Linked DNA regions of Homo sapiens. The protein of the gene in region 2 interacts with the protein of the main gene of each other region in a biochemical or structural test. Each region holds a gene or a part of one and is shown on either strand. Other genes may lie near its edges.

What was found. The genes of interacting proteins can lie anywhere in the genome.
Region 1: the proteins of AMFR (region 2) and DERL2 form a complex in vitro, tested with the Homo sapiens proteins (one study listed by BioGRID).

The regions. Positions count from the first base shown.
Region 1 is NC_000017.11:5,475,699-5,479,678, forward strand, and holds part of DERL2 (derlin-2), read right to left. Parts: intron 2,302-3,980; coding exon of another isoform or gene 2,259-2,301; exon of another isoform or gene 2,151-2,258; intron 1-2,150.
Region 2 is NC_000016.10:56,401,546-56,405,045, reverse strand, and holds part of AMFR (E3 ubiquitin-protein ligase AMFR), read left to right. Parts: intron 1-4; coding exon 5-137; intron 138-1,927; coding exon 1,928-2,061; intron 2,062-3,202; coding exon 3,203-3,313; intron 3,314-3,500. UniProt on the Homo sapiens protein: E3 ubiquitin-protein ligase that mediates the polyubiquitination of lysine and cysteine residues on target proteins, such as CD3D, CYP3A4, CFTR, INSIG1, SOAT2/ACAT2 and APOB for proteasomal degradation.

The DNA of each region.
Region 1 (3,980 bases), on a different chromosome or scaffold from region 2:
AGACTGCTCCATTGCACTCCAGCCTGGGCGACAGAGCAAGACTGTCTCAAAAAAAAGGAAGGAAATTCAGGCACATGGTACAACATGGATGAACCTTGAGGACTTTACGCTAAATGAAATAAGAAATAAGCCAGACAAAAAAGGACAAATATTGTATGATTCCACTTAGGTACAGAGTAGTCAAATTCAGAGAAAGAAAATAGAATGGTGATGGCTGGGGTGGGGAGTTGTTTAATGAGTACAGAGTTGTAGTTCTGTAGGATGAAGAGAGTTCTATGGATGGTGGTGATGGCAGCAAAACAGTATGAATATACTTAATGCCACTGAACATTTAAAATGAGTTAAGATGGTGAATTTTATGTTAGGTATTATTTTACCACAAAATTTTTAAAAAATTAACAAGGTATCCCAAGAAAAATTACTGCAGAACATAGGAGGGGATAGTAAATGTCCAAAAGACTCCCTAAGTACTATGATGTAGTAATTCAAAACCTCACTAAAGAAGGAACCATTAAAGCAGCATCCTCAATTTGCACTTATATTTCTACTTGTAATCCTCCACAGTTGATAAAATTAGAAATGTATCTGAAAACTTCTGATTTATACTGGAGTCAGAAAATAGTATAATTCAAAATGAGTTTTTAAAATTCTTACAAATTAACAATAAAAACAAACATACCAACAGAAAAAATGGGCAAAGGGCTGAATATGCAATTCAAAAAGGAAATCCATGTGGTCAATAAACGTGAGAATGTTTGCTCTCACAATAATCAAAGGAAAGTATATTAGAAACTGAGATCCCGGCAGGTGTGGTGGCTCATGCCTGTAATCCCAGCACTTTGGGAGGCCGAGGAGGGTGGATCACCTGAGGTCAGGAGTTCAAGACCAGCCTGACCAACATGGCAAAACCCTATCTCTACTAAAAATACAAAATTAGCCGGGTGTGGTGGCGCATGCCTATGATCCCAGCTACTAGGGAGGCTGACGCAGGAGAATCGCTTGAACCCAGGAGGCGGAGGTTGCAGTGAGCCGAGATTGAGCCACTGCACTCAAGCCTGGGTGACAGAGCAAGAATCCGTTTCAAAAAACAGCAACGACAACAAAAACAAAACTGAGATCCCTTCTACTGCCCAAACATTAGCAGGATGGGGGTGGGGGCACAGCCTGGTATAGGGAGTCAAGAGCCCCATCAGACCATGCACACATGGAGGTGGCCTGACGAGATGTTAGCCCGAGTAGGATGGGGAGGCATCCCTGTAAGAGGGCAGCCTGGTCTGGGGAATCTGAGGGTGAGTGAGATAAGCAAGGCATCCATATGGGAGAGGTGGAGACTATCCCGAAAGACTGGTTACATATGAGGGGTAATTAGGTAGGTAAAACATTAATCATAATAAGAATCAGGTTAGGACAGATGGAAAGGGCAGATGGAAAGGAGTGGTACATTCATACAACCAAATAATATTCAGCAATAAAAAGGAACAAATTACCAATAAATACAAGAACACAGATGAGTCTCAAAAACATTATGTTGAATGAAAGAAGCCTTATACCAAAGAGTACATGCATACTGTACAATTCTACTCATGAAGTTGTAGAACATGAAAAACTAATCTACAGAGGAACAAAACCAGAATAGCAATTGCTTCTTGGGGGACAGGTACAATGATTGACAGGGAAGGACATCAGGGAACTTTCTGGTTGATGGTAATTTTCTGTCTTGATAGATACACAGATGTGTGCATTTATAAAAACTCAGTTGACACACTCAAGATTTGTGTATTTTGTTGCACATAAATACTAAACTCTAGTTACTGATATGCACACTCAAGTATACAAGGAATTAAGTATACATATAATGGCACATACATTTTGGATTGGAAAGCTAGATGTAGGGATAGGTGTGCAATAAGAATAGGGAACTATTAATTACAGAATCTATGTGGTGGCTACATGAAGCTCACTCCAATTTTTTTCTGATTTCCTATAAGTTTGTTAATTTTCATAATAAAATATTGGAGGAAACCAATAGGAAAAAAGCTAGAATGAACCATGAGGTAGTACTAGAAATGGGAGTATAGTATAAACCCATGTTTTAAAAAATACATAGATCTAAAAATATACACATGTATACATTATCATACATACATACATATAATTCCATTGCTCTGTTCACTGAGAGGATCTGGGAATAGCAACACTCCAATAGCAATGAGCACATCTAGCACCCAGATCTTGGCTTCTAAATACCATTCTCCACTTTAAAGGAACCAGGGCTCCTTGAAGAAACAGCTGATTCTAGGACTGGATCAAGGAGAGCACAGGATGAGCCTGGTATATCTTGTTGTGCCAGAAAACAATTGCAAAAAAATAAAAAAATAAAAAGTGGGGTGTAGTGGCTCACACCTGTAATCTCAGTGCTTTGGGAGGCCAAGAGACAAGAGGATCACCTGAGGACTGGAGTTCGAGACTAGCCTGGGCAACATAGAGAGACCTTGTCTCCACAAAAAAAAACATTTAAGAAAGAAAATAAGCAGAGCTTGGTGGTGTGCACCTGTAGTCCCAGCTACTCAGGAGGCTGAGGTGGGAGGATCACTTGAGCCCAGGGGCTTGAGTTAACAGTGTGCTATGATCATACCACTGCACTCCAGCCTGGGCAATGGAGTGAGACCTGTACTGCATATGTAATTTCTTGTAGGACTGAAATTGTTTCAAAACATTTTTTAAAAATCATAAACAATGAGACATCATCCTACAACTATTCAACTAGGAAAGGGTAAATAAAATGCCTTCCTTGTTTGATTAGGATGTGGGGAAATGAACAGTTATAAATGCTAGTTGAAATGTAAACCTGAACATCCATTCTGGAAGGCGTTTGGCAACAAAATAGGAATTCTACTTCTAGGAATTATCTTTTGAAAATAATCATGGATGTGTGCAGAGATTTAGCTACAAGGACATTCACCACTCCAATTACAGAAGAGAAAACCAAGCACTAACGTCAATGTCCATCAACAAGGGATTAGTATAATTACACCATATCCATACCATGGAATATCACCTGTTATAATTTTATAACACTTCAGGGTGGAAAAAACAATTATGGCATACTAAGTTTACAAGGTTACAAAAATTGTTTTTTGAGACAGGGTGCCACTCTGTCCCCCAGCCCGAAGTGCAGTGGTGCGATCTCGGCTCACTGCAGTCTCAACCCTCTGGGCTCAAGCAATCCTTCCACCTCAACCTCTCGAGTAGCTGGGATTACAAGTACATGCCACCATATGCAGCTGATTTTGGGATTTTTTGTAGAGATGGGGTTTTGCCATGTTGCCCAGGCTGGTGTCAAACTCCTGAGTTCAAGTGATCCGTCTGCCTTCACCTCTCAAAGTGCTGGGATTACAGGAATGTGTTATGTTGTCCAGGCTGGAATGCAGTGGCTATGTTAAAGGCCTAGCCCAAGAAGAGCAGTGGCTGTTCACAGGCGCAATCATAGTGTATGCAGCCTTGCCTGGCTCAGCGTTTTTTAAAAAGTACACAAAGACTGAAGAATACACATTGAAAAGTTAACAATGGTGGCCACTGCTATACCCAAGTGTCGGGATAGTGGACAATTTCACTTTCTTCTTTTTTGCTTACTATTCTACAACAAACATTTTATAACAAAAACTCACATTTTACTTCTCAATTGAGCCCTTTTTAATATGGCATCTCCCAAGGATACCAAATTCCAGAGTAGAAAGAGGTCTCATAAATCAAAGTTCTACTGCACTCCAGCCTAGGTAACAGAGTGAGACTCCATGTAAAAAAAAAAAAAAAAAAAAAAAAAAAAAAGAAAGAAAGAAATCAAAGTTCTATCTCAGGAAACTGAAGTGCAAAAAAGAAAGGACTTGCTCTATGGCTGGTCAGTGGGACAGCTACACCTGGTTTCCAGTCCAAAGCTATTTCCACTCTGCTTCACTGCTTATCTCAACCACCTGCTTGGC
Region 2 (3,500 bases):
ACAGATACGTAATTCACCTCTGGGACCTCAACCACGAAGGGACGTGGGAAGGAAAGGGGACGTATGTCTATTACACAGACTTTGTCATGGAGCTCACTCTCCTGTCCCTGGACCTCATGCACCATATTCACATGTTGGTAAGTTTCCTCAGAAGGAGCTCTAACAGAGGGCAAGCCTTTCAGAATCAGGAACAGTAATGGTTTCTTCATTAAAAAATGAAACTTTAGAAATAAGATGTGGATGGACTACTTAAAGACTAAAAATGAATGTGGCTGCAAACCCTCCCTCTTTTTGCCACTGGGTGTAAGGCAGTGCCATGGAACTGCTTTGGCTGGTGCCTAACTCAGGAGGTGTTTGCTGTCCTGGGAGACTTAGTTAACTCTGCTGACCAAGTCAATAGATTATTCTTTTAGCATGAAATTAAGGAGCTGCCTTTCCCCATAGTTTCTATGGCTTTAAATATTTAGCAGGTACTTTGTAGGTGGTAATGGGAATTCCTGCAGTGTTAGCTACTTCACAGATTTATACATTTTCCATCTTTGTAATTAAAAAAAGTCTTTACACTTAATTCCTACATTCCTACTACCATCATTGTTTACATTTTACTTTGGTATGTTAGACGTTACGGTGTCGTAGATCTGCTTCATTGGTTGGCCCTTCAGTGATCTAATAATGGTGAGAATTAAAATAGTTGGTGGGCAATTTATTTAAATTATAAGCCTAGCAAGTAGCATTTTAAAATTATTGGGCTAGACGTGGCACATTTCTAAGTCTACTTTTTGAAAGAAACTTTGAAAACATACTTTTTAAAGAAAGTATGTAATTCTTTTTTTTAAAAAAGAGCCTCGGCTGGACGCGGTGGCTCATGCCTGTAATCCCAGCTACTGGGGAGGCTGAGGCAGAGAATTGCTTGAACCTGGGAAATGGAGGTTGCAGTGAGCTGAGATCGCGCCACTGTACTCTATCCTGGGCGACAGGGTGACACTCCGTCCCAAAAAAAAAAAAAAAGCCTCCCTCCCCCCTCAAAAAGGGGACAAACAAATGGCCAAAGATAACTGTTAAGATTTTTTATCTTCTTTTTTTAAATTTTTTTTCCTCATGCTTGTATTTTTTGTATTTAACTGCTTCTTTTTATGTATTTTTTGTATTTATGTATTTTGTATTTTTATGTATTTTGTATTTAACTGATTCTTTTTATGTATTTGAGTACATACATTCATAAATTGAGATCATATTTTAGACATATAGTTCTGTTCTTTAAAAACTAATGTATTATGAACATTTTCCTGTGCTAACATCAGTTCTTCTAAGCCATTTTAATACTTTCAGGATAAAAATATCATCAGATAGCTGTACCATGATTTAATAAACCGCATCCCACAATGGGTTATTTAGATTATATTTGGTTGTTTGCTATTTCACATTTTACATATTTTTTATCATGTATTAGTTTGATAAAGATAGTTATATCTTGCTTTTTTCATTTATCTAGTACTATCTTCCCATAATTGACCTTCAGAACTGTTATATATACAAATATAATAGTAATATGTAGTTATATAGTATAATAAGTGAAATTAATGACTATATAATTTTACATTACATGAGTTTACAACCTAACTGTTCTTCTGGGCATTTTGTTCATTTTCATATTTTCTGTTTTATAATTGCATGGATAGACATCTTTTTGCATAAAGCTTTTCCATTTCTGATGAGTTTCTCAGGAAAGATGACTGGCATTGGAGCACCTAGGCTGACGAGGATGTGCATTGTTTAGAGTAATGAGATAAATCTGTGTATTTCCTTTCTGAAAGACATTGCAGTTCACCATCACCAACAGTGAAGAGCTTCCGCTGCATACTGCGCCTTCATCACTAGCAAGTTCACGTTCGCTTTTACCGTGTGTTTTATTCTCTTTCTCTCTAAGTTATTTGGCAACATCTGGTTATCCATGGCCAGCCTGGTCATCTTTATGCAGCTGCGTTACCTGTTTCATGAGGTGCAACGTCGAATTCGTCGGCACAAGAACTATCTACGTGTGGTTGGAAACATGGAGGCCAGGTAAGGAAGCACAAGTTGATGTTGCCTAAGTTTACTCATTTTAGTTTTTTAATAACAGCAGATCCCAGAGTATGTCAGAATGTATGTTTGTAAACTGCTAATAGAGTGGTGGAGAGGAAAGGCTCTGGAGTCAGACTGCCCGGGTGTGAATCCCCACTTAGGTGCTGTGTGATTTGGGGCAATTTACTTCACCTCTAAATTAGGGATGAAAACAGAACCTTCTGCCTGAACTATTGGGAGAATTTGGTGAGATAATTCATGTACTTAGAATGGTACTGGGCAGATAGTGCTCAGTATTAGGCTCTTATTTGTCATGATTTTATTGTCATTATTATCAAATAGACACTTCATTGGGCTTCTACCCTGTTCATTTCCTGAAAGTGGGTCTCAGTTCTTTGCACATGCATGTTTACACACACATACTTAACCTCATTGAAGGAGGCACTTTTTTGCCAAGCTGGGGCTAAGCCACGCCTGGAGGTGCAAGATTAATGGGTATCCTCTTTGCACCCAGGGGGACAGCTTGGATCTCTTCTTTGTGGCCAGGGACACAGATTGGATCTCTGGGGGCCTTACTCCTCTGATTTGTCCGGATATGGTCTCCGAGGTCTTCACTAACAGCAGCCATTATTATTATTATTATTATTATTTTGGAGATGGAGTCTCACTCACCCAGGCTGGAGTGCAGTGGCACAATCTCAGCTCACTGCAACCTCCGCCTCCCAGGTTGAAGTAAGTCTCCTGCCTCAGCCTCCTGAGTAGCTGGGATTGCAGGCGCCTGTCACCACGCCCGGCTAATTTTTGCATTTTTAGTAGAGACGGGGTTTCACCATGTTGGTTAGGCTGGTCTTGAACTCCTGACCTCATGATCCCCCTACCTCGGCCTCCGAAAGTGCTGGGATTACAGGTATAAGCCACCGCGCTCGGCCTAGCAACCATTATTTAGACAAAGTTCCTGTGCATAAGTTACTCACTTTTGAAAGGGCTTTGAAGGTAAATTATATTTTTGATTATCAAGAATGTTTTGCTGAACATGCTTTCTCTGTAACTGTGTTGTGATACAGGCGCAGTCTATCAAGTGGTGTTTAGTGTGCGTGTGGAACTGACTGAGGTTCCTGCTGGGCTTGTTTTGTTTCCACAGGTTTGCAGTTGCAACTCCAGAGGAGCTGGCTGTCAACAATGACGACTGTGCCATCTGTTGGGACTCCATGCAGGCTGCGCGGAAACTGCCCTGTGGACATCTTTTCCACAAGTAGGAGCTTTGTGAAGGGCCATGTGGGACAGGTGTTCTGTCCAGGGCGTGTGTGTGCTTTGTGTACCCAGGCTCGAGACTCATCCTAGTGGAGGAGTGGGGACATTACCTCAGCCTGGCCTTGCTGCTGGCACTGAGTGTTCTGGGAAGCTCTTGGGTATCCTTCTTTGTTCCTTAGCCTCTTCCC